4 linked regions of the Homo sapiens genome follow. The protein of the gene in region 1 purifies or fractionates together with the protein of each later gene. This does not show direct contact. Each region holds a gene or a part of one and is shown on either strand. Other genes may lie near its edges. The genes, in order: PCDHB16, MTHFR, PDZD8 and POMT2.

What was found.
Region 2: the proteins of PCDHB16 (region 1) and MTHFR purify together in Homo sapiens (affinity purification with mass spectrometry; 2 studies listed by BioGRID and IntAct, with this or other methods). This does not show direct contact.
Region 3: the proteins of PCDHB16 (region 1) and PDZD8 purify together in Homo sapiens (affinity purification with mass spectrometry; 2 studies listed by BioGRID and IntAct, with this or other methods). This does not show direct contact.
Region 4: the proteins of PCDHB16 (region 1) and POMT2 purify together in Homo sapiens (affinity purification with mass spectrometry; 2 studies listed by BioGRID and IntAct, with this or other methods). This does not show direct contact.

Annotation. Positions count from the first base shown.
Region 1 is NC_000005.10:141,178,430-141,185,413, forward strand, and holds the start of PCDHB16 (protocadherin beta-16 precursor), read left to right. Parts: upstream 1-3,957; 5' UTR 3,958-4,130; coding exon 4,131-6,461; 3' UTR 6,462-6,984. Other genes in the region: PCDHB8 (protocadherin beta-8 precursor), read left to right, coding at 1-2,011. UniProt on the Homo sapiens protein: Potential calcium-dependent cell-adhesion protein. May be involved in the establishment and maintenance of specific neuronal connections in the brain.
Region 2 is NC_000001.11:11,785,201-11,788,974, reverse strand, and holds the end of MTHFR (methylenetetrahydrofolate reductase (NADPH)), read left to right. Parts: coding exon of another isoform or gene 1-323; 3' UTR 324-596; coding exon of another isoform or gene 597-826; 3' UTR 827-927; coding exon of another isoform or gene 928-1,102; 3' UTR 1,103-1,481; coding exon of another isoform or gene 1,482-1,587; 3' UTR 1,588-3,252; downstream 3,253-3,774. Other genes in the region: uncharacterized protein C1orf167, read right to left, coding at 1-323, 597-826, 928-1,102, 1,482-1,587, 3,686-3,774. UniProt on the Homo sapiens protein: Catalyzes the conversion of 5,10-methylenetetrahydrofolate to 5-methyltetrahydrofolate, a cosubstrate for homocysteine remethylation to methionine. Represents a key regulatory connection between the folate and methionine cycles.
Region 3 is NC_000010.11:117,372,422-117,380,116, forward strand, and holds the start of PDZD8 (PDZ domain-containing protein 8), read right to left. Parts: upstream 3,020-7,695; 5' UTR 2,807-3,019; coding exon 1,935-2,806; intron 1-1,934. UniProt on the Homo sapiens protein: Molecular tethering protein that connects endoplasmic reticulum and mitochondria membranes. PDZD8-dependent endoplasmic reticulum-mitochondria membrane tethering is essential for endoplasmic reticulum-mitochondria Ca(2+) transfer.
Region 4 is NC_000014.9:77,310,875-77,317,906, reverse strand, and holds part of POMT2 (protein O-mannosyl-transferase 2), read left to right. Parts: intron 1-5,873; coding exon 5,874-5,958; intron 5,959-7,032. UniProt on the Homo sapiens protein: Transfers mannosyl residues to the hydroxyl group of serine or threonine residues. Coexpression of both POMT1 and POMT2 is necessary for enzyme activity, expression of either POMT1 or POMT2 alone is insufficient.

The sequences.
Region 1 (6,984 bases):
AGTATTTCTGGACAAACAAATGTTGGTGAAAGTATCAGAGAGCAGTCCTCCTGGGACTGCGTTTCCTCTGAAGAATGCTGAAGACTTAGATATAGGCCAAAACAATATTGAGAACTATATAATCAGCCCCAACTCCTATTTTCGGGTCCTCACCCGCAAACGCAGTGATGGCAGGAAATACCCAGAGCTGGTGCTGGACAAAGCGCTGGACCGAGAGGAAGAAGCTGAGCTCAGGTTAACACTCACAGCACTGGATGGTGGCTCTCCGCCCAGATCTGGCACTGCTCAGGTCTACATTGAAGTTGTCGATGTCAATGATAATGCCCCTGAATTTGAGCAGCCTTTCTATAGGGTGCAGATCTCTGAGGACAGTCCAATAAGCTTCCTGGTTGTGAAGGTCTCTGCCACGGATGTAGACACAGGAGTCAACGGAGAGATTTCCTATTCACTTTTCCAAGCTTCAGATGAGATAAGCAAAACTTTTAAGGTCGATTTCTTGACAGGAGAAATTCGACTAAAGAAACAACTTGATTTCGAAAAATTTCAGTCCTATGAAGTCAATATCGAGGCGAGAGATGCTGGAGGCTTTTCTGGAAAATGCACCGTTCTGATTCAAGTGATAGATGTGAACGACCATGCCCCAGAAGTTACCATGTCTGCATTTACCAGCCCAATACCTGAGAATGCGCCTGAAACTGTGGTTGCACTTTTCAGTGTTTCAGACCTTGATTCAGGAGAAAATGGGAAAATAAGTTGCTCCATTCAGGAGGATCTACCCTTCCTCCTGAAATCTTCTGTGGGGAACTTTTACACCCTACTAACAGAGACACCACTAGACAGAGAAAGCAGAGCCGAGTACAACGTCACTATCACCGTCACTGACTTAGGGACACCCAGGCTGACAACACATCTCAATATGACCGTGCTGGTGTCGGACGTCAATGACAACGCCCCCGCCTTCACCCAAACCTCCTACACCCTGTTCGTCCGCGAGAACAACAGCCCCGCCCTGCACATCGGCAGCGTCAGCGCCACAGACAGAGACTCGGGCACCAACGCCCAGGTCACCTACTCGCTGCTGCCGCCCCAGGATCCGCACCTGCCCCTCGCCTCCCTGGTCTCCATCAACACAGACAACGGCCACCTGTTCGCCCTCAGGTCGCTGGACTACGAGGCCCTGCAGGCGTTCGAGTTCCGGGTGGGCGCTTCAGACCGCGGCTCCCCGGCTTTGAGCAGCGAGGCGCTGGTGCGCGTGCTGGTGCTGGACGCCAACGACAACTCGCCCTTCGTGCTGTACCCGCTGCAGAATGGCTCCGCGCCCTGCACCGAGCTGGTGCCCCGGGCGGCCGAGCCGGGCTACCTGGTGACCAAGGTGGTGGCGGTGGACGGCGACTCGGGCCAGAACGCCTGGCTGTCGTACCAGCTGCTCAAGGCCACGGAGCCCGGGCTGTTCGGTGTGTGGGCGCACAATGGCGAGGTGCGCACCGCCAGGCTGCTGAGCGAGCGCGACGCGGCCAAGCAGAGGCTGGTGGTGCTGGTCAAGGACAATGGCGAGCCTCCGTGCTCGGCCACCGCCACGCTGCACGTGCTCCTGGTGGACGGCTTCTCCCAGCCCTACCTGCCGCTTCCGGAGGCTGCCCCAGCCCAGGGCCAGGCCGACTCTCTCACCGTCTACCTGGTGGTGGCGTTGGCCTCGGTGTCTTCGCTCTTCCTCTTCTCGGTGCTCCTGTTCGTGGCGGTGCTGCTGTGTAGGAGGAGCAGGGCGGCCTCGGTGGGTCGCTGCTCAGTGCCTGAGGGCCCCTTTCCAGGGCATCTGGTGGACGTGAGGGGCACCGGGAGCCTGTCTCAGAACTATCAGTACGAGGTGTGCCTGGCAGGAGGCTCAGGGACGAATGAGTTCCAGCTCCTGAAACCAGTATTACCTAATATTCAGGGCCATTCTTTTGGGCCAGAAATGGAACAAAACTCTAACTTTAGGAATGGCTTTGGTTTCAGCCTTCAGTTAAAGTAATTGATTTCATATTATATATTTTAATTTTTATGATCAATTCAAAGGAATGGTTTTCTGTCAACTTAGCATAAATTTTAAATTACACTACATTTGCCCATAGTATTTGTCTTGTTTTCACTGTTTTAAAAAATGATATCTCATCTTCTCTTCATTAGTATATCCAGTGGACTCTAATCATAATTCTTTAACAGTGCAATTTTTGTTAAAATGTACATAGTAAAATGCACAGATCTGAAGTGAAGAAATTAATGTAACTGATCTTTTTAAGCCTTTATTTTTTGATTTCTAATCTAGGTAAAATTTAGTTAAAAGTGGTGTAGAGAATGTTTTACATTTATTGCCTTTTAAATGTTTCCCCAAGTCCTAAGGGAGTTGACATATTATCCCCTTTTTTAAATATGAGAAAACTGAGGCTTAGAAAGGTAACTTGGCTGTGAGCTGTGGCTCACACCTGTAATCATAACACTTTGAGAGGCTGAGGCAAGCTGAACCCTTTGAGCTCAGTAGTTCGAGACCAGCCTGGGCAATGGGGCAAAACACTGACACTAACAAAAATACAAAAATTAGCCAGGTGTGATTGCGAACCTGTAGTCCCAGCTACTCAGGAGGCTGAGGTAAGAGGATCCCCTGAGCCCAGGAGACAGAGACTACAGTGAGCCAAGATTGTGCCATTGCACTCCAGGCTGGGTGACAGAGTGAGACCTCATTCCCCCCCACAAAAAACGATTAACTTTCTTATAATTCTGAAATAATAAAGGTAAAAATTTAAAATATAATCTAAGTCTAGCCAATATGCTATATGGTCAGGCATTAACTGATAGCATTGTTTTTCTAACTAAGGAAGTGAAATTTATGTTATTCCTACTCCTACTCCATGAACTAAACTCTCATGTGAAAATATAAGTTTTAGTTTATAGTTTGTTTATACTACTCTGCACAAATATACCCATGTTCTTATCAAAGCTCTAAGTATGCTGGGACAGATACTACAAATGAACTTTATGATGAGCGAATTAACCTGATTTATAGTCCTGTACTTTCTCTACGTGCCATATCCATTATTAAAGAAATGAGTCTAAGTAGGAAGTAGAGTTAACCTATAGTTTCATTTCTTGAATTTCTTATTCTCTTTCTTCAGTCTTTTTCAGTTAACCTACACACACACACACACACACACACACACACACACACACACACATATGTTTATAAGTGGGATGGGAGAACGGGTACGGTGATAATTAAAAGAGGTAAGGTTTCTCTTGAGATGAAAATGTTCTAAAATTGTGATGGCGGATGCACACCTCTGAATATATTAAAAGCCATTGAAATGAAAAAAGGGTGGGGGGAATCCAAAAGTGTAGCAGACCCAACCTTGAGATTTGCTTGTTTGGGAATGAATTTTCCAATAACTTGAAAGTTGTAAAAACTCACACTTCTCAGGGTTAGGTGTCAGAAAGAAAAGGAAGTAATTTATTCTTTAATAAAGCAATTGTTAAATACTCTTTAGAACTACCACTGATTGCAATTTTGCAGTGTCTACTCATAGTGTCTATATAGGTACCATGAAAAAGATGTACTTGTGAAACTGTTCTCATGTTACTTCAGAAAAATTTTGCTTCTAAGTGTGTATTCTATGTCTGGTTAAATGTTCATTGAATTTTATTTAATCATTAATCTCAACAGCATTAAACAGTCAATAACATAAATGACAGTCTTCTCTTTGTACTCCTCCCTGTACAACATCACAGAGCTCCATCTGTATACACGAAAGTCACATGAAAATAGAACTCAGTGTTTTGTATTACATAGTCTATTCAGTACATTTAGAAGTATTTTGCCTCCAATATTCAACCACAGTAAAAGACTCAGTGAGAACGCGTGGTGGCGCTGCAGGTTAAGATGACGGAAAATACAACTGCCTACGCAGCTCCAGGATCCAGCAAACCGTTTCCCAAAGCCTGGAAGCAGAAGAATAGCTGAGCCAGAGCGAACGTGAGTGTGAAACCTCTTTAAGACACCGTTGGGCTGCTTGGTTCTGACATTCTGGACTGCAAAACAGTTCTACTAGGATCCTGGGGATACATGAAGCTTCTGTGAACCAACTTTTCAAGAAAAAGCAATGGAGATTGGATGGATGCACAATCGGAGACAAAGGCAAGTCCTTGTTTTCTTTGTTTTGCTGAGCTTGTCTGGGGCGGGCGCCGAGTTGGGGTCCTATTCCGTAGTGGAAGAAACGGAGAGAGGCTCTTTTGTGGCAAATCTAGGAAAAGACCTGGGGTTGGGGTTGACAGAGATGTCCACCCGCAAGGCCAGGATCATTTCCCAGGGGAACAAACAGCATTTGCAGCTCAAGGCTCAAACTGGGGATTTGCTCATAAATGAGAAGCTAGATCGAGAGGAGCTATGCGGTCCCACTGAGCCTTGCATACTACATTTCCAAGTGTTAATGGAAAACCCTTTAGAAATATTTCAGGCTGAACTGAGGGTGATAGATATAAATGACCATTCTCCCATGTTCACTGAAAAGGAAATGATTCTAAAAATACCGGAAAACAGTCCTCTAGGAACTGAGTTCCCTCTGAATCATGCTTTGGACTTGGACGTAGGAAGCAATAATGTTCAAAACTATAAAATCAGCCCAAGCTCTCATTTCCGGGTTCTAATCCATGAATTCAGAGATGGCAGGAAATACCCTGAGCTAGTGTTGGATAAAGAGCTGGATCGGGAGGAGGAGCCTCAACTAAGATTAACCCTGACAGCGCTGGATGGTGGCTCTCCACCGCGATCTGGAACTGCTCAGGTCCGTATTGAAGTGGTGGACATCAATGATAACGCTCCTGAGTTTGAGCAGCCCATCTACAAAGTGCAGATTCCAGAGAACAGTCCTCTTGGCTCCCTGGTTGCCACCGTCTCCGCCAGGGATTTAGACGGCGGAGCCAATGGAAAAATATCATACACACTCTTTCAGCCTTCGGAGGATATTAGTAAAACTTTGGAGGTAAATCCTATGACAGGGGAAGTTCGACTGAGAAAGCAAGTAGATTTCGAAATGGTTACGTCTTATGAAGTGCGCATCAAAGCCACAGATGGGGGAGGTCTTTCAGGAAAGTGCACTCTTCTCCTGCAGGTGGTGGACGTGAATGACAATCCCCCACAGGTGACCATGTCTGCACTCACCAGCCCCATCCCAGAGAACTCGCCTGAGATAGTAGTTGCTGTTTTCAGCGTTTCAGATCCTGACTCCGGAAACAATGGGAAGACGATTTCCTCCATCCAGGAAGACCTTCCCTTTCTTCTAAAACCTTCAGTCAAGAACTTTTACACCTTGGTAACGGAGAGAGCACTCGACAGAGAAGCAAGAGCTGAATATAATATCACCCTCACCGTCACAGATATGGGGACTCCAAGGCTGAAAACGGAGCACAACATAACAGTGCAGATATCAGATGTCAATGATAACGCCCCCACTTTCACCCAAACCTCCTACACCCTGTTCGTCCGCGAGAACAACAGCCCCGCCCTGCACATCGGCAGCGTCAGCGCCACAGACAGAGACTCGGGCACCAACGCCCAGGTCACCTACTCGCTGCTGCCGCCCCAAGACCCGCACCTGCCCCTCGCCTCCCTGGTCTCCATCAACGCGGACAACGGCCACCTGTTCGCCCTCAGGTCGCTGGACTACGAGGCCCTGCAGGCTTTCGAGTTCCGCGTGGGCGCCACAGACCGCGGCTCCCCCGCGCTGAGCAGAGAGGCGCTGGTGCGCGTGCTGGTGCTGGACGCCAACGACAACTCGCCCTTCGTGCTGTACCCGCTGCAGAACGGCTCCGCGCCCTGCACTGAGCTGGTGCCCCGGGCGGCCGAGCCGGGCTACCTGGTGACCAAGGTGGTGGCGGTGGACGGCGACTCGGGCCAGAATGCCTGGCTGTCGTACCAGCTGCTCAAGGCCACGGAGCCCGGGCTGTTCGGTGTGTGGGCGCACAATGGCGAGGTGCGCACCGCCAGGCTGCTGAGCGAGCGCGACGCAGCCAAGCAGAGGCTGGTGGTGCTGGTCAAGGACAATGGCGAGCCTCCGCGCTCGGCCACCGCCACGCTGCACGTGCTCCTGGTGGACGGCTTCTCCCAGCCCTTCCTGCCGCTCCCAGAGGCGGCCCCCGGCCAGACCCAGGCCAACTCGCTCACTGTCTACCTGGTGGTGGCGTTGGCCTCGGTGTCGTCGCTCTTCCTCTTTTCGGTGCTCCTGTTCGTGGCGGTGCGGCTGTGCAGGAGGAGCAGGGCGGCCTCGGTGGGCCGCTGCTCGATGCCTGAGGGCCCCTTTCCAGGGCGTCTGGTGGACGTAAGCGGCACCGGGACCCTGTCCCAGAGCTACCAATACGAGGTGTGTCTGACAGGAGGCTCAGAAACAAGTGAGTTCAAGTTCCTGAAGCCGATTATCCCCAACTTCTCTCCTTAGGGCACTAGGAAAGAAATAGATTAAAATTCCACCCTTCACAATAGCTTTGGATTTAATTATTGATAGGAACCCATTTGATAAATTCCTTAACTTCTTATGATTGTCTTGTTGATTAAATTGTTCATGCTCACCACCACCAATAAGGTATTTTTCTCTGATTGTTAGTTCAAATTATATTGTTAATTCCAGTTTCCCTTTTCCTCATATTTACCCCGAAGAGGTGTTGCATATAGAATCCCAATTAACAAAATATACTTTATCTTCAAAGTTGATGTCATTTAAAATTTTTCCGTCTTTATATTTTATTTACTTCCTATTCATTTTTTGCTCCATTTTTCATGTTACTTCTCAGTTTCCTAGAACTTCAAGTATTAAAATAACCTGTTGCATGTATTAGGCATATTTCCTATGTTACATTTCTTTTGTCTATTTTCCTTTCAAAATTGGTATTTTTGTTGGGCTCAATTTTCATTATAATACTTTTCTTAAAGTTTCTTTCTTTCTTTTCTTTTCTTTCTTTTTT
Region 2 (3,774 bases), on another chromosome or scaffold:
CTGATGGACCGGGTGGGCCTGGCCTGAGCTGGGGCCACAAATCAAAGCAAGGGCTCCAGCATCCAGCCTGTGTGTTCTGTAATGGAACTGACCCCCTCCCCTGAAAACGAAGGGGCCCCGGGGCTGGCAAGCAGGGAAAGCTCCACGGTGCGTGGCTGTGGCACAGACTTCTGGAAGGCTGGCTGAGTGGAATGCAGGGAAGAGGGCAGTACCTGGGAAAGGACCCACCCATCTTCCTGCTGCTGTAACTGCTGAGCCACTCGCAGTCGCAGGATCCGCTGCCACCACGTCTGCCAGGCCCATCTCAGGTGCCACTCCCTGAGCTTTGGGGACAGTTGGCAGAGAAGGCCTCTTGTGCTCACGCTCCCCCGCAGTCCCCAGCCCTTCTGCCTTTCTCCCCCGACACTGCTGCACCAGAGTGAAAGGGCTATGGCAAGGGGGTGTCATCTGAGGAGTATTAAGAATGCAGATTCCTGGGCCTGTCCCCCAAGGTTTTGGAGTCAGTAGGTCCAAGGGCCATACTTTTGAGAGGGGTTTGGGTTAAGTATGAGGTGAAATGGGAGATGGTCAGTGTGGAGAGGGGTGCACCCACTCACCAGGGTCCGCACCAGCTGCTCTGCCCCTTGGGCATCCACCCAGTGCTGCCATGCCACTGCCAGGCACCTGGCCTGCTGGGAACCCCGCAGCCCGTGAAGCAGTGCCTCGAGGCACCGGCGCTGCAGGTACTTCCTCCTGATGGCCAAGAGCATCGTGACCCTTCAGGGCCAGAAGGAGGGCAGAGCCATGGGCCTGGGCCTGCTTTTCCAGGATCCTGCAGGAACGAGCACTGGCCAGAGAGGGCCCAGCTGTAGCCATGGCTCAGGCAAGCCCCTCAGCCCTTGCCCCCATCCCTCGGACCCACCAAACTGCACACACAGCTCCTCTTACCGTAGCCTCCGTTTATGGGCCTTGCTTTGGGCTTTGCAGGCTCTGGGCTCAGGGCTGGAGTGCGCTCTTGGTCCCTGGTCCCTCGTCCACAGGGGCAGGCCTGGGACCCAGCTACTCTGTCCAGGCCACTGTGGCCAGAGCTGGAAGGCAGGGCAGAGGGAATGTTCCCTGCACCCTGGAAAGGGGAGTTGAGTCACAAGAGGTTAAGGTGGGTCCAGGAAGGCAGCTGCTCTTAGTGCCCGCCTAGGAGTTGAGTACAGTGAGGAGGGTGGAGGAAGGTGCTGAGCTTAGCCTTGTGCCCTGCCCCCATCTCCCCAGGCCTCCAGCCTCTCCCGGCTGCCTGCCGCCCAAAGAGAAATCACAGGGGCGGGGCAGGAATGCAAAGTGTTTTCTCAGAACAGCTGAAACATTCCGAAGAGGGAATGGATGGGGAGAATGGTCAATACACATAAGACCGTGTCCCAAGGAGCTGATTTCCAGGCCCCTGAGGACTGGAGACCGCTTCACCCCTGCACTTCAGACACCGTTTGTCCCCCGGGGCAAGGTCTCCTTACTCTGAGCCCAGGCCGTTCCCCTTGGCTTCCTCCGTCCACCCAGGCTGCACTGCAGTGATGGCGCGGGAGGCACCAGCTCTGTGGCCTGTGTCCAGCAGCTGCGGGTCTGAAGGAATAGCCAGAGAGGAGCACCTGAACCCCATGGGCTTGGACTTCCTGGGGCCCCGCTGGGATTTCTTCGCTGCTCTAGCTGGCAGGACACATCCCGGCCTCTTCCACCCATTCCCCCATGTGGCTGAAGACATTCCAACAATGGGGTGGGCCCATAATAGTTAGCCCTCAGTCAGTTCCCGGAGCACAGCCCTGGGAGGGGGCTATTTCTCTCCCCACTGAAAACATTTCAAAGCTGAGTTACTTGTCTGAGGCCTCATCCCTCGGAAGCCGTCTGACTCCAGAGTCTGAGCCCCCGGCTAGTACCCTATAGAGAGGGGGCTCTCCAAAGGGGCTGCTGGGGCATGTGTGCCTGTGGCAGAAAAGAGGAGACCCTGGAATTCAGCACCCTGGGTGCCATTCCCAGCGTTTAGTTTCTAGAGGCCTCAGTTTCTCCATCAGCTTATGGGATCCTTGTCTTTACTGACAAGAATGGAATAGAAATGTAAAAGTACTCTGAAAAGCAATTGCCCTGTAACTTATCTAGAAAGAAAAGACCCTGAGACTCCAGAATCTGCTGTTGCCATAGCCCCATATGTGTGAATTCTGCAACTAGCCAAGGCTAGTTCCTTTCAATTCCATTTAAAAAACAAAAACCAGCAGGTGTGGTGGCTCATGGCGTAATGGGCCTGCCCAATGCTTTGGGAGGCCAAGGCAGGTAGATCGCTTGAGCCCAGGAGTTTGAGACAAGCCCTGGCAACATAGTGAGATCCCATTTCTACAAAAAAAAAAAAAAAAAAATTAGCCGGGTGTGGTGGCACACGCCTGTAGTCTCAGCTACTCAGGTGGCTGAGGTGGGAGGATCGTTTGAGCCCTGGAGGTTGAGGCTGCAGTGAGCTGTGATCGCACCACTGCACTCTGGCCTGGGCGACAGAGTGAGACACTGTCTGAGAACAAAAAACGACTGAAAAAAAAAATCACCTTAGCTTTTTCTCTTAGAATCTTCTCTAAAACGTATTCTTTGTGGCATTCTGAAATAGGATTCATGATGATGCCTGTTGATCTTAGGGACACTACCTCACCTGCCAGTATCTTTGGGGCTGTGTCCTTCAAGGACATGTCCCCAGACTGCTGTGCAGTGTCATTTTTTGTGTTTGGTTTGGTGGTGGCTTCTTCCCCCTTGCTAGGCTATCAACCTCTTATCACCACTTGTTGGTGTCAGAACTAACTGCTTCTGGTCTGGAGAGGGACTGACCGATGCCTTTGGGTAGAGAGAATTATGAAAGAAATTTTGGTATTTTTCTACTTTATATTTTCTGAGGTTTCTGTAATAAGCATATTTCACTTTTCCAATAAGAAAAAAAAAAACTTGGCCTGGCGCGGTGGCTCACACCTGTAATCCCAGCACTTTGGGAAGTCGAGGTGGGAGGATCACTTGAGTTCAGGAGTTCGAGACCAGCTTGGGCAATATGGTGAAACCCCGTCTCTACTAAAAATACAAAAATTAGCCAGGCGTGGTGGCGTGCACTTGTAGTCCCAGCTACTCAGGAAGCTGAGGCGGGAGAATCACTTGAACCCGGGAGGCAGAGGTTGCAGTGAGCTGAGATCACTCCTCTGCTTCAGCCTGGGCAATTGAGCCAGACTCTGTCTCAAAAATAAACAAAAAAACTTGACAAAAAAATGCTACTGTCCTCGTGTACCTATTCTGATCCTCAACTGCACCGTGAGAAAGCATGCATTTCAATGTCTCCCTAACAGGCTGTGACCCAACATGCTGGTCTTTGCGGCCGGACCTGCAGTGGCCTGGCACTCGAGAGGTGCCAGGTTCATCTTTGCTGATGGATTCAGAGTTGCTTGTCAGAGGCTGACTGAGAACTGGGGAGAGGTGGTGCATACGAGGTTGCTGGGCCCCTGGGGAGGCATCCAGCCATGCTGCCACCACCGGCTGAATCAAGCTGATTCTAAGGCCGGTGGTCCGAGGGTCATTTTTGGACCTCCCGCCCTGCCTAGGCTCCCTTCACCTGTTTCCAAGGGGCTGGGGCGTCCAGCAGCAGGCTCCCCCTGCTGGCCATCCGGGGCCAGAGCGTGAGGTCAGTCTGGGGCTTGGGGCGTACCTTGCCGGCCCCTGGCAGTCCCAGCCGCACCCTGAGCTGCACTGTCCGCAGGAAGCGCCTGAGCTCAGCCGGCCGGAGCTGGGTGAGGA
Region 3 (7,695 bases), on another chromosome or scaffold:
CAAAATGATATGTAATCTCACTGTCATTGGCTAGTCTACAAATTTCAAAATAATAATCTAGTCAAATTGTATTAACTGAAAGCTATCAGAAAACATCATAATTGAAGTTGTGATAGAATACCAAAATTTCTAGCAACTTTTTCTCATGACTTTTTTGGCAACACACTGCTATAAATAAACATCTCTCACTGCTTAAACACTAGAACCGAGTTATAATTTAATCACTGATATTCCAGAGGTTAAAAGTAGGTTTCATAAAGTATGTTCTACTTCACAGAACCAGAAATCGAACACAGTGAACAACCAGTTCACCACCCTCCGCAAATCTATGGAAATATTTCCATTACAAAGTAAATTTCTCCTGCCACGCAAGTTTTAAACTGTCACTCTGCGCTGTTAGCCTAAACAAAACATAATTGGTAAGGTACATCTGCCACATACAGAAGTCAATAATCCATTCCAAACCCAAAATATTTCTGGATTATCTTGCTCCTGAAAATTGACACTGGTAGAAAATTAGTGATCCAGAAATAGGCAACTTCCACTAAAAGGCAAGTAAAATTAGGTAAGTAAAATACAAGACTGACATAATTTTATAATAAAGGGCAAAATTTTAAAGGCTCAAATGTCTTAGTGAATACAAAATTAAAGGAGGACCGAAAGAGAAGTTAAAAATTCAGCTTTTTACAAAAGAAAAAGCACCTTCCACTCCACCTCTAGCCCTAAAAAAGTCTTTCCCCTTCCACTCCTACAATATTAAAACAAAATTTATATACTACTCAAAACTGTATACCACAAAATTTAAGCCATCAGATGCTGGAAGGCTTAAACAAAATTAAAATCACTACCTAGCATTAAAATACAATTTGTACAGTGACTTCAGGTCCCTTGAGAGAAGAACTTACAGTCACAGAGAGTAAATGCTTGATGGGCAGAGTCTGGATCTGTGTTCTACAATCTACCCAAAATGGGCAAATGACATTAATACAAAATGTAAAGTACACTATGTACAGGCTCCCAACTCCTTTCCCATCTGCTGTGGAAAGTATTCCCGGGCCGGGCGCGGTGGTTCACTCCTGTAATCCTAACACTTTGGGAGGCCGAGGCAGGCGGATTACTTGAGGTCAGGAGTTCGAAACCAGCCTGGCCAATACGGTGAAACTCCGTCTCTACTAAAAAATACAAAAAAAAAAAAAAAAAAAAAAAAAATCAGCAAGGCGTGGTGCCATACGCCTGTAACCCCAGCTACCTGGGAGGCTGAGGCAGGAGAATCGCTCGAACCTGGGAGGCAGAGGTTGCAGTAAGCCGAGATCGCGCCACTGTACTCCAGCCTGGGCGACACAGCAAGACTCTGTCTCAAAAACAAAAACAAAAAAAACCCACAAAAGTATTCCTTTGCAAGAGTTACCACCTCTGCCTTGAAAGGTGTCAAACCATCAAAGCAAAAGTGGCTTGCAATGTCAAATTAGCACAGACCTGGGCTATAAGCACACTCTTCACGCGTGTACTGTGTCCAGGAACAATTTCTCAAAGCGGCCAAGGGGATGCTGCAAAGCCAGTGACGCGGCTGCCCTCAATGCAGCAACCACATAGAGGGAGAGTTTCTCAACAGTCCCAGAAGCGACTCCTGGGGATTAGGGTAGGCTTCCCTTCCATTTCCAATATGCTGCTTATAAAAGGAGACGATTCTGCCCGCGTTGACAGCACCCTGAGTCCCCATGAACACGCGAAAAGGTTTCTAGCTCCTATCAATGCCGTTCGGAAGCAAAGCAAGTGTTCACGACTCGCCTTGATCTGGGGCCCTGTCCAGGGTGGGAAGGCCCCAGAAGCAGGCGCCAGGACAGAAATGAGCCTTTGCCCTTCCCAATCCACGCAGCGTCCCGCCCAGGCCCGGGTTCCCGGCAGCCAGGCCCCCTCCCCGACCTCCAGCTCACCTGATCTTGTAATTCGGTAGGGTGTGCTTGCGCTTGATGATCTTCTTGAGCTGGTTGACGATGATGGAGGTGAGCTGGGGCATGGGCCGCCCTTCAAACTGGGAGCGCACCTCGAAGTCGATCAGCGGGTCTTCCACGAAGGAGAAGAACCAGTGGGTGAAGGGCACGCGCGTAAAGACCAAGCGCAGCCTTCCCACCACGCGGGACAGCTTGACAAACAAGTAGGCGGACTTGCCGAAGACCAGGTCCACGTCGATGGCCAGGTGGAAGCCCCCGTTGTACTCCACCTCCGCCTCGAAGGCCAGCTCCTCGGGGCAGGCGGCGGGCAGCGCCTCCCCTTCAGGGCCATCGGGCTCCCCGGTGGCCGAGGGCACGACTGGCCGCACGAGCCGGATGGTCTTGATGAAGGGCACCGTCTCGCCCAGGAACACGTCCCGCAGGCTCAGCCCCTCCAGCAGGCGCCCGGCCGTCTTGGTCTGCAGCAGCTCCTCGAACTCCACCTTGATCTTCTTGGTGACCCAGCGGCGGGTCAGCGCGGTGTCCCGCAACTCCCGGAACAGGAATAGGATGGTGGCGTTGAGGAAGTAGCAAGTCTCCCGCGTCGGCGGGGCGGGGGTCTCGGGGGCCGCGGTGGGGGTCGCGCCGCCCTCAGGGGCCGCTCCGGAGGGCTCCTCATCCCGGCCGCCGCCATAAAGGTACTCCCTTAGGAGCAGGCCCGGCACTGGCTTGATGTAGCGGAAGCCCTCGCCCGCGCGGGCGGCCTCGTCCGCCGGCGGCTCGGGCTGTCTGCGGTACAGCAGGAAGAACTGGGCGAGGAGCGTGAGGAAGGAACCCAGCACGGCCGACGCCAGGATCATGAGCAGCAGCCCCATCCCGCCACCGCCTCCGCCCGGGCCCCTACTCCCGCGCCCACAGCGCCGCTTTCTTCACGCCGCCGCCCCCGCTGCCTCCATTTTGAGGACATCGGGCGGCTGGGTCGGGGCGAGCGGCTCCGTGGGCCTCGTCCAGGGGCTCGGGCCGGCGCGCTGCGGCGCCCGAGCCCGCAGCGGCCCGCGCCTCCTCAGACGCTCCCGAAGGGCCGGTGTGGCGGCGGCGGCAGCGGGGCCGGGACCGGCGCCTCCCTCAGGCCTCCACTCATTGGACGAGCAGCGCGTGACGTCAGAGGCGTGCTCGCTCCCGGCGGCGTCGCCCAGCAGTCGGCGCCCGGGCACGCGGACGCGGGTCCTCCTTTACTTCTCTGCGGCCCTTCCAACCTCGTCCCCCCACGCCAACATTCCAATCCCCGCGGCGCGCGCCGCCACCCACGTGGCCGTCACTTCTGGAGCTGCGGTCGGGATCTGGGAGGACGGCTGGGGACGCGGGCTGGAGGATAAGGCGGTCCGGCGGAGCGGGCCTGACGCGTTCCGGATGCCGGCCATCCCGTTATCCTCGGCTGCGCCCATCCCCCGTCTCTGGCCGCAGTCCCCGCGGTTACCTCTGCAGCGGCGTCGCTCATCCTGCGGTGTGCTTCTTCCACTCGCACCCGTGACAGCCCGGCTGGCAGCGGCGCTTTCCCTGCGGGCAGCACCGCAGACGATCCGAGCGGGCCTTTCGGACGCTTCCCAAGCCCACGGCGAGAGGGGACCGACTGCCTCAGAGGCAGCCATCGCGGACCTGCCGTCCCCCCGGCAGACGCTCTGCGTCCGCGGAGGGTGGGCCCTGGGAAGGAGGGACGCAGGGAAAGGGCGCGCCACGCGGAATGACTTTCCCACCGAGGTGGATCTTCGAAATTTCAGGGAGGAGGAAGTTGAAAGAACAGCCAGGAGGAGAGATGCATAGTGAAACGAGTTTGCCAAGTGATTGGAAGATTAATATGCGACCCGCTGTCAGTCTCTGGTTAAGCCGGTAGTCCATCTATGAGGCAGTTATTCACTGTTAGCCCCCACCCACTTGACAGATGCCAACACTGGTGCAGAGAGCGTGGGGAGGTTGCGTGGGGCCGCAGAGTGGAGCCTGGTTTATCTAACACTAAACCCTAATGTCTTGATCACTACTCTCTGCCCTAACACAGAAACTGCTTCAGTTGTAAGCAGGCCAGTGGGTTCCCTAATGTTCAGGAAGGGAGAATTGGGGAGGCGGATTAGGGAAGACGGCAAGGAATTTTGCATAGAGTAGCACCTTAACCAAAGCCACGAAGCTAAGCCAGGTTGCCCAGCAACAGCGTTACTCCTCCTGCCCTCTGACTACTTAGTGGTTACATCATAAATGCTTATCCCTCCAAGCACGTGGAGTTCCAGTCCTGCAGGAGTCAGATATCCCATACCTTAAAGGCCGATTCTGGCTGTACCTAAGGAGCCAGGGCAGGGCTCCTCTCTAGCCCTTGAAAACCTTCAAGCCGGCCGGGCGTGGTGGCTCACGCCTGTAATCCCAGCACTTTGGGAGGCCGAGGCGGGCAGATCACGAGGTCAAGAGATCGAGACCAGCCTGGCCAACATGGTGAAACCCGTCTATACTAAAAATACAAAAATTAACCGGTCGTGGTGGTGCGCGCCTGTAGTCCCAGCTACTCAGGAGGCTGAGGCAGGAGAATCACTTGAACCCGGTAGGCGGGGGTTGCAGTGAGCCAAGATCACGCCATTGCACCCCAGCCTGGGCGACAGTGCAAGACCCTGTCTCAAAAAAAAAAGAAGAAAACCTCCAAGCCAAGGATTCTCTTAACTGTAGGTGATTCTACCACAAAAATAGACCTGACCCAGCTGGGACAGGTACAGAACTTCGGAACCAGGCTTATCATGCCTTACCGAATCATGCCCAGATACGAAACCAGAATGGCTTTCATTACTATGAAGACATAAGATAGGTGTCTGCTGAGGAACCATGCTCAAACCATGGCCGAGATTTTTCGGAGATCTTGGCAACTTCTGTTCTCTGGTCCCCTTTGGTTCCTGGCCTCTGCTTCTGGGCTGCTCTCTGGGATCTACACTGTTTCAACTCAAATGAGAAATGTAGACCCTTCTATGATTTCCACCGTAAACCTATTCATAACATTCATGCACATTGCATATTATAAATGTTACAGAAGCTGGAAGTAGGGTGGCATGAAAGAAGTTATTCACATTCCTGAAATATAAAACCCTCAAACTGTATATTGATCCATCCCGAGTTGCAAAATATTCTTCACCCACCTCCCTCCTCAACAATGAAAGTTTGTGGTCTTCATGGGAATGAGTCCTCAGTCTTCATCTTGCAGACTCCTTTCTTTTCTCTTCTCCTCTCACTTCTGCGCTCCTCAGAATACCTGTGAGAATCTTAAATCTTCTCAGTTTGTTTTACAGAGTCAGAGTCATTGCATTCCCCAGCAAAACTTGACCCCTTAGGGACACACTTCAAATCCATGAAAGAGCTCAGCAAACCTTTTGGGAAGAAAAAAGTATTCTCCCTTGTGTGAAACATGACCAACATTGATTAAACACTAATAATAATAATACAGAGAACTGACCATGTGCCAAGCACAGTGTTAAGCATGTTATTTAGAAATATTTAAATATTTCAAACATTATTTAGAAATCAAAATATCATGAGTTTTTGTAAAGTCAAATATGCAGTCATGCACCATAGAAGGATGTTCTTGTTAACGACAGACTGCCTATAGGATGGTGGCCCCATAGGATTATAGTACCGTATTTTTACTATGCCATTTCTGTGTTTAGAGATGTTTTGATACACAGATACCATTGTGTTATGGTTGCCTACAGTATTCAGTACAGCAACGTGCTGTATAGATTTGTAGCCTAGGAACAATAGGCTATACAATATGGCCCAGGTATGTAGTAGGGTTTCCCATCTAGGTTTGTGTAAGGACACTCTGATGTTCGCACAATGATGAAACTGCCTAAAGATTCACAACTTATGTCTGTTGTTAAGCCACACTTGACTGTGTTTGATAAGTTAGGAGATAATGCTCTGGATAATATTGGTGTTAGCATGCCCTTTATTTTATGAAATTATACTATGTTAATAGAGACGAATTTGTTTTAATGCTATTTTCTGGAAAAGGATAAATTCAGCAACCCCTCCCTTTTTTTCTTATATTAATGCTGGTTCATAGAAACTCAAAAGCCTGAGAACCACTGGCCCCAGCTCTGAAGATCGATGATTCTGAATAGGTTTTTAAAGGAAGCAGTTGTGCTTAGCCTCCCTGCTGACTTTTTAATGTGTTTTAAATGACATCATTGAAATTAAGCTGCCCCAACAGCCTTCATGGAAATATCCATTTCAAGGTCGAAGTCAGTTGAATACTGGAAGATGGGTTGCATATAAGACATTCTCACCAACTAGAGGGATGCATGGACCACTGCTTGACTATGAATCATTCCTGGTGACCGCGAAAAATAATGAGAAAGCCAAACCACGTAAATGTGCAAAGTTTGTGAGTAGCATGAAAGCAAATTTGATTTTTTGAAAGATGTAAAATAATGCAAATATAGTGAAATATGGTGGGAAACATAGAGTTTATAAGGTTTGCCTAACAAATGATACATCAACAAACCATTTTGTGAACTGGGAGAATTCAAATTCCACAACTATTTTTTGAGCATCCAACAAGTACTAGGCTCCAGGGATACTGAATGAACAGGGGCGCTGCGCCCCAGGTGGAAGCAGACACACATCTGCATAACTCTGATGATAGGAGATAGTGCTCTAATAGAGGCACATGCAAGGTACTATGGGAGCAGAGCCTTCTGGTTCAGGGGCAGTGACAATTGATTGCAAGGAACAGCAACTACCTCAGGCTAACTTACAACTAAAATTGGATTCACGTTAAGGATGCTGGAATATCTCCAGGAACTCAGCTGCAAGATGTTCATAGAAATCCTAGAGTAAGAAAACTGTCTCTCACTCTCATTTCCTCTGCCCCCACCCCTACCCAGTATCTTATTTCTGCATCTCCCTGCAGGTCTGTGCCATTTTACTCCAGAAGGCTCTTGGTTTCTACTTCCCCATTACCCTCAGCACACAGGCACTTTGGGAGGCACCAGCTCTCTATCCAGATCTAGAGGGTCCTATGTCTCTGATGGCTAAGGTAGCCTGCAAGCTCAATCTCAAATCCTGGGAGAGAAATCTCCAATTGGCTGTGCTACTCCAATAATTTATGACCAAGGAGCTTGCCTCTTCTGGGCTGCTGGTGGGTGGGGCAACTTCTTCAAGGACTGGGAGAGGATTGAGAAGACATGATGGGCAATACTAGCTCAATAGGGGATAAGAGATTAATTCTTGCTGGGGAAGGTGGGAGGCTTTTGGGGCAAATGGAATTTGCATTGGCATTTAATGATTAGAAGGGCATTCTAATCAGAAGGAGACAAAAACTCAGAAGATGGAAACCCGCCAGTTTGGGGAAATTGAGACCAGGATGACTGGAAGAAGGTAGTACGAATAGGTTGGTGCATCAAGGAGAGAAGGGAGATGGAGGTAGCATAATAAAGTAGACACAAACTAAATTATGGAGAGATTAAATGTCAGGGCAAGTTTTTATTCTATTTTGCAGTTTTTGTGAAGTCTTCAAAGGTCTTTAAGCTAGAGAATGGCATTAACACTTTTCCTTCCATCTCCACCTGCAAAACCTCAACCCTAAATGAATCCAACTATCTACCTCCTCCCCTCTACATTATAAATTTATGGTCTTCGTTCTTATTAAGGCCCTCAAGGAAACCCAGACATTTTTCTCCACTACCACATTTATCCATTTTTTCTCCATTACCAGCATCTTCTTCCATGTCCCATA
Region 4 (7,032 bases), on another chromosome or scaffold:
ATTAACTTTATGTTCTGGCACCAGGCCATTCCAACAAGACAATCTAGTGACTGAACTAGAATTAAGTCTGAATTACATAGATAGCCTCCTCCTCCCAGCTGATCTGGGCTTTCTGTAAGGGGGAAGAAAGATGAATCATGGCCAGAAATGGTCAGGGGAGAATCTCACATTTTCAAAATAGGTTTATATAACCCTCCACCCCTTTTTCCTGATCATTACCCAGTTGGTAGGCAAAAGGAGATGACCCATTTCTGAGAATGGCTGCCTTAGGTGACCAAACTGCTTCAGTAAGGTTTGCAGACCAGGAGGAGGTTAAAAACATAGAATCAAAAATCTTTTTGAGTTGATCTTTGAGGGAACTGTTCAGTACTTGACAATGTCATGCCTGTGGATGGTAGGGAGTGTGGGAGGTCCATCGAATACCTTGGCTATTGACTGTTGACACTGTTGGGTGGCCATTGCGACAAAAAGATATGCCAGTGTCAGACTGTAGATGGTTTGGAAAGCAGAAAACCTGGCAGTTTAGTTTCAAGGGCCACAGTGGTATACACAGAGTCAGATAATTGGACTGGAAAAGCAACATCAGCACTGTAAACTGAAAAAGTATCAGCAGTAGCAAGGTACTGATGAGAGCCTAGAGAAGGGAACAAAGTCCTAATGTCAATCTCCCAGGAGCAGGTGTGGTCAGTGCCCCTTGCAATGTGGCTTCCTTTACTGCAAGACAAGCAGGCCAACTTTTGGCAGGAGTCACAAGTCTGGCACGCAGTGGTGGCTTCTGCCTCAGAAACATGTAGTCCCTTACGTTGTGCCTAGCCCATGATGGTAGATGTTTCCACACCGGTTGCATGAATCCAGGTGGCTATGGCAGCAGTCTTGGTGGTGCAGGCTGGATCAGCAGTTTGATTCCAGTCAGTCTTACGAGAGTACCTGCCCTTAGTGTGGGCACCTACGTGAGTGATCCAGTCTGTCCTATTGGCAGGCAGCCATGATGTGTTTCCACACTTCTCAGCTTTCATCTCTCAGTATTTAGTCTTCCAAGTGGCATACCAAATGCTTCAATCCTTACTGCCATCAGCCATCCAGAGTTATCATTGGGGCTAAGTGCCTGCTGCTGCTTGGTGGGCAACATCAGCTTTTAACTCAGCCTAATCATTGGTGAGCCAGGCCTAAGCATTTACAGGAACCCCTGTGAATCAAGGGCCCTACTGAACAGCAGCTCGGCTTCAGGTAGCAGAGAAGGTTGTTTCTCCCAGAGTGGGAGCTGCCACTTCTTCACGTAAAACCAAGATGCCTCTAGGGCCAGGCTAGCTATACTCTTTTTTTTTTTTTTTTTTTTTTTTAGAGATGAGATCTGACTCTGTTGCCCAGTCTGGAGTGGAGTGGTACAATCATAGCTCACTGCATCCTCAAACTCCTGGGCTCCTCCTGTCTCAGCCTCCTGAGTAGCTGGCACTACAGGCACGTGCCACCATGTCCAGCTAATTAAAACAGATTTTTTAAGAGCTGAGTTCTCACTATCCTGCCAAGGCTGGTCTTGAACTCCTGACCTCAAGCCATCCTCCTGCCTCAGCCTCCTGAATAGCTGGGATTACCAGCTGTACTCTTGAATGTACTATTTCCATAGGATCAGTGAGGCTTGTTAAACCCTTCCCTTGTTATCAGTAGATTCCCATTGACCCACCCCAAAGTGGGAATACTAGGCCAGGGAGTCCTGAGGCCTTTATGGGTCTGGCAATCAATTTCAAAGTGTTGAGTAGTTAACTAAGGAGTTAATAGCTGTCCTTTTAAAAAGGGTGTGCTTGGTACCTATGTCCAGCAGGTGGCACTGTGATTCTGGTGCATGGCTCTCAGTACTCCAGCAGCCACAAAGTTGTTTTTTGTTTGTTTGTTTTTGTTTTTTGAGATTCTCGCTCTGTCGCCCAGGCTGGAGTGCAGTGGCGCAATTTCAGCTCACTGCAACCTCTGCCTCCTGGCTTCAAGCAATTCTCTGCCTTAGCCTCCCGAGTAGCTGGGATTACAGGCGCCCCTATCACGCCTGGCTACCTTTTTGTATTTTTAGTAGAGACAGGGTTTCACCATGTTGGCCAGGCTGGTCTCAAACTCCTGACCTCAGGTGATCCGCCCGCCTCGGCCTCCCAAAGGGTTGGGATTACAGGCATGAGCCACTGCACCCAGCCGCCACGAAGTTTTTAAGCCTGTGATTTATTTCCTTTCCCTTCCAGGGATGTAGATTTTTTTCTTCTGGACCACCAGGAGAGGACAGGATCACCTGTCTACACACAGCAGCCCTTGCCCAGGATAATCCTCTTCGACACTTATGGGATCAGTATCAGCTATACATTCAGCACTGGAAGCCACAGGAATAGTACATTGAAGAGGCCCAAAGAGCTCTGCCTGGAATGTCACTTTAACTTCCCTTCCCTACAGGGAGCGTGGCTCAAACATTACCAGTTTAATCTGGACACTTTTTCCCCTCGAACTAATGCGTCTAGAAGGCCTGCATCAGGGGCTATGGTGACAGCCAGCCAGAGATTTTGCCATTTCCCAGTCGGAGAGTGTGGCGGTGCTGGCTGCAGGGAGTGGGGAGAAGCTTTTTCTGCTCCTTTAGCTCTTCACTAGGCTTGCATCACGACCTCCCCAGTGTCGCTCCCTCAGGGTTAGGGGCCCTTTTCCCTTTAGTCCTTGTGCGCACTGCTATGGCTGTCCCTGCAGTCCTGAGTGTCTGCAGTAACCTCTGTGTGTAGTACATCCTTCCCCCCATGAGACATGGTAGGGTGGAGATGTGGGACCTCATATCCAGCAGAGCCCTGAGTTTGCCCCTCTCCTCCCTGGGGCTCTCCAGCATACTAGGATGGGTGTGTATGACCTTCAGTCCCCTTTAGGGACATGGAAACCTCAGCCCAACCTTTAATCATCTCAGTCTTTAATGCAGCTGAGGTTGTGGTAGAGTGGGAGGGATCCTGGGACATAAAGGGAGAGAGTGGCTCCGAGCCACAAAGCAAGTCATATTTATATTTACTTTTGGCTTGAGTACACAGCTCCCCCAAGGATCTTTCAGTGTTTCATTTTACTCAAAGTTCTATCTTATATAGCAGGGTCCTATTGCCGCACCGTTGGAGACTTGTTGATTGAGCAGCCATATCCATATTGCCTTTTGGCAGGGGCTGCTGGGCTTGCTGCCATTGTCATGATCACTCCTCTTCCTCCTTTTGCCCAGAGGACAGGGCAGTAACCAGGGTGACATTCAGTGGCTTGTTTCAATCCTACCTCTTTCCATCAGCCTCTCTAATAGTGGGACAGTGGGGGACTCTCACTACCCCATTGCCTGCCCATGGAGGCCCTCATTCTTTCTCTTACCAAAGACTATGTCTCTCCTCATCCTATGCTTGTCTCCACACTGTCAGGGGCTGTGATTTTATCTTAGCCTACTTATTAGCTAATAAGTTAGCCTGTCACTGTTTTTTGCATGCTGACAGAAGACAAAGTCTTGGGTCAGAGACAGAGGACTTTATTTCTCATGGCACAGCAAGTGGGATGTGCATCAGCATGTTGGCATCAGTTTCCTTTGCCCCTAAGTCCCACGTGGTGCTGAGGGACTGGATGAATGCTTGCACATGCAGTAGCTTGCATCACAGCTGAGTAATATTAAGCTTAGGGAATCTGCTGTTTTATGGCAAGCAATAAACAAGACAGCCCTCTGTCTCAGAGGGAGACACTAACTTCCCTCAAGGTTGTTTACTGCAAACAGCATTCTTGGCATACCTTGCAAGGCCTGGAGGAGCACAAGAGAGCCACGGAGGACTGTCTCTCCTAACACAAGCAATAAAAGCCAGGAGGAAATATGAATGTTACAACTGGTTTTACTTGGGAAACTTTTGAAGTAAAAATCTGGAGCCCAGGCTGGGTGCGGTGGTTCACACCTATAACCCCAGCACTTTGGGGGGCTGAGGCAGGTGGATCACCTGAGGTTTGGAGTTTCGAGACCAGCCTGGCCAACATGGTGAAACCCCATCTCTACTAAAAATACAAAAATTAGCCAGGTGTGGTGGCGGCCGCCTGTAGTCCTAGCTACTTGGAAGGCTGAGGCAGGAGAATCGCTTGAACCCGGGAGGTGAAAAGTGCAGTGAGCCAAGATTGTGTCCATGTACTCCAGCCTGGGCAACAAGAGTGAAACTCTGTCTCAAAAAACAAGCAAAAACAAAACAAAACAAAACAAAACAAAAAAACTGGAATCCTTTTGTTAGTATGTTCCCAAACAGATTTAAAAACTAACCACAAATGTCAGGACAGTTTAAGGAGGGCCCAGCAGGGATGGTACTTTATAATCTACAGAATTCTTTCACATGTGTTATCTGAGTTGAGCCCTAAGGCCTCCCTGGGAGGTGGGCAGGGCAGATAATATTATTGTCTTCATTTTGTAGATGAGATAAGAGGACTAGAGAGAATAAGTGATTTTGGCGGGTTGTGCCATTAATTAGTGGTGGAGCTGGGACTGGATCTCTCTTTCTGCAAATCAGTTTCATTACCCTGCTTTGAAGTTATTTCTGTCTTCGACCTCACCATGCCAATGTCCTCACTGCCTGTCAAGGTGTTTAGCAGATGCTGAAATAGACCTATTCTTTTGCCTATCTTGGACCCACCAAGTAAGATATAAAAAGAACCTTAGATTCTTAGGTAAAGCATGTTTTCCCCTTATGTAGTAGGTCAATAATGACTGCTCATGACCTGGGGATTGATGACTACTAGAAAGTAACCCTTCTTTTGAGCTACAGGGAGAAAATTACAAATAGAAAAGGCCAGGCTCTGCTGGATGACTTGGCTGCGTTCCCAAAGCCCTCATGTATGGTGTAGAAAGGTGTATGTGGTTGTATAAAAGAGGACTTTGCATTGTGTTTGAAAGCCTGTTTATTCAAATCACTTATTTACTTGCAAAATAACTTAAGCAATGAGGATAGGTTTTAGATGTGGTCTTAATTTAGTAAGAAAGCCTTCAACTTTTATATACTAGTTAGTATAAGATCAGCCAGATCACAGTTAGCAGCTTACTTGTCACAGGGTGGCTGAGCAAAATGAGACTCCTGTGACACTCATGGTTTATAGACTCAACTCTGACCAGCAGCCCAACAGCGTCGTAATGGACCTTCTAATAGCAAATGTTGTCTCAGAAGTTAGCAGACTTGGAAGAAACTTTTTTTAATTTAAATTTTTGTTTACACTAGCTACTTGAAGATAGGAAGAAAACTTTTTTTTTTTTTGAGACGGAGTCTCACTCTGTCGCCTAGGCTGGAGTGCAGTGGCGCGATCTCGGCTCACTGCAAGCTCTGCCTCCCGGGTTCACGCCTCAGCCTCCCTAGTAGCTGGGATTACAGGCACGTGCCACCATGCCTGGCTAATTTTTTGTATTTTTAGTAGAGACAGGGTTTTACCATGTTAGCCAGGATGGTCTCCATCTCCTGACTTCGTGATCCGCCTGCCTCGGCCTCCCAAAGTGCTGGGATTACAGGTGTGAGCCACCGTACCCGGCCAGAAGAAAACTCTTACTACAAACCTTTCCATATTATGAGAAAACATCTTGTCCTTTTAAAATAAATAGAAACTCAAGATACAGAGTAAGTATATGTATATTTAACTCAATTGGTAACTGGCTAGTGAATATTTGCTCGCCTTTCTCATCTATCTAAATGAAGACCAGTGGCCAGCTTGATGTCTTTCTTCCTAAAATCACTTGTGTCAAAATATTTTTTTTTTAAATCCAGACTTTTGCATTAATTGTTTGAAATGCATAGCCTTTAATTTTAACCATGCTTTATGAAGGCCATTTGGATTTTATGATAATTTTAAAATTCTTGTTTCTCTTTCTGTGTTTCCTTTAGTTGGGATGAGACTCACTTTGGAAAAATGGGAAGTTACTATATCAACCGTACATTTTTCTTTGATGTGCACCCGCCCCTGGGAAAGGTGAGCAGTGTGGTGAATAGCAGCTCTCTGGTCCCAGAGGATTGTTCCTAAGGGCTGGAGCCACATCTTGATTTTGGATTTGGGGCTTCTAGAAAGAATTTGGGACTTGTAGAAAGAATTTTCTGACATTTCAGACCAGCTACTTTCATGGAAAATCTCTGGTGTTTTTTAAGGGTCCTCTGGGCTCAGAAATGGAAAGAGGGCCCATCAGCTGAGGGAGGGATGAACAAAGTGTGGCACAGCCATATGGTGGAATAATATTTGGTCATAAAAAGGGATGAGGTTCTGATACATGCTACAACATGGATGAACCTGGAAAACATGCTAAATGGAAGAAGCCAGACACAAAAGGTTACATACCCTGTGATTCCACTTATATGAAATATCTAGAACTGACAAATCCGCAGAGACACAAAGTAGATTAGTGGTTGCCAGGATCTCAGGGCAGGGAGGATTAGGCAGTGACTGCAAATGGGTGTGGGGATTCTTTATGGGGTGATGACATGTTACAGAATTAGGTAGTGGTGATGATTGCACAATCTTGTGAATATACTTAAAACCACCCATTGCACACTTTAAAATGGTGGATGTTATGTTATGTGAATTTGTCTGAATTTTAAAAAAGAAAAAAGAAATAGGAATACATTGCATGAAGCAGAAATAGCTTACGAGGCTGATATCCATATGGGGCTGACTTCTTTCTCCCTTCCCATGCCCAGCATACACATGGTTTGATCTGTTTCTCTCACATGTTTTACCATTAGAAATTCAACCAATTAGAATTCACTTTACTCTTTTTTTGTTTGTTTGTTTTTGAGACAGAGTTTCACTCTTGCCACCCAGGCTGGACTGCAATGGTACAATCTTGGCTCACTGCAACTTCTGCTTCCCAAGTTTAAGTGATTCTCTTGCTTCAGCCTCCCAAGTAGCTGGGATTACAGGCGCCCGCCACCACGCTGGCTAATTTTTGTATTTTCAGTAGAGACGGGGTTTCACCATGTTGGCCAGGCTGGTCTTGAACTCCCAACCTCAGGTGGTCCACCCGCCTTGGCCTCCCAAAGTGTTGGGATTACA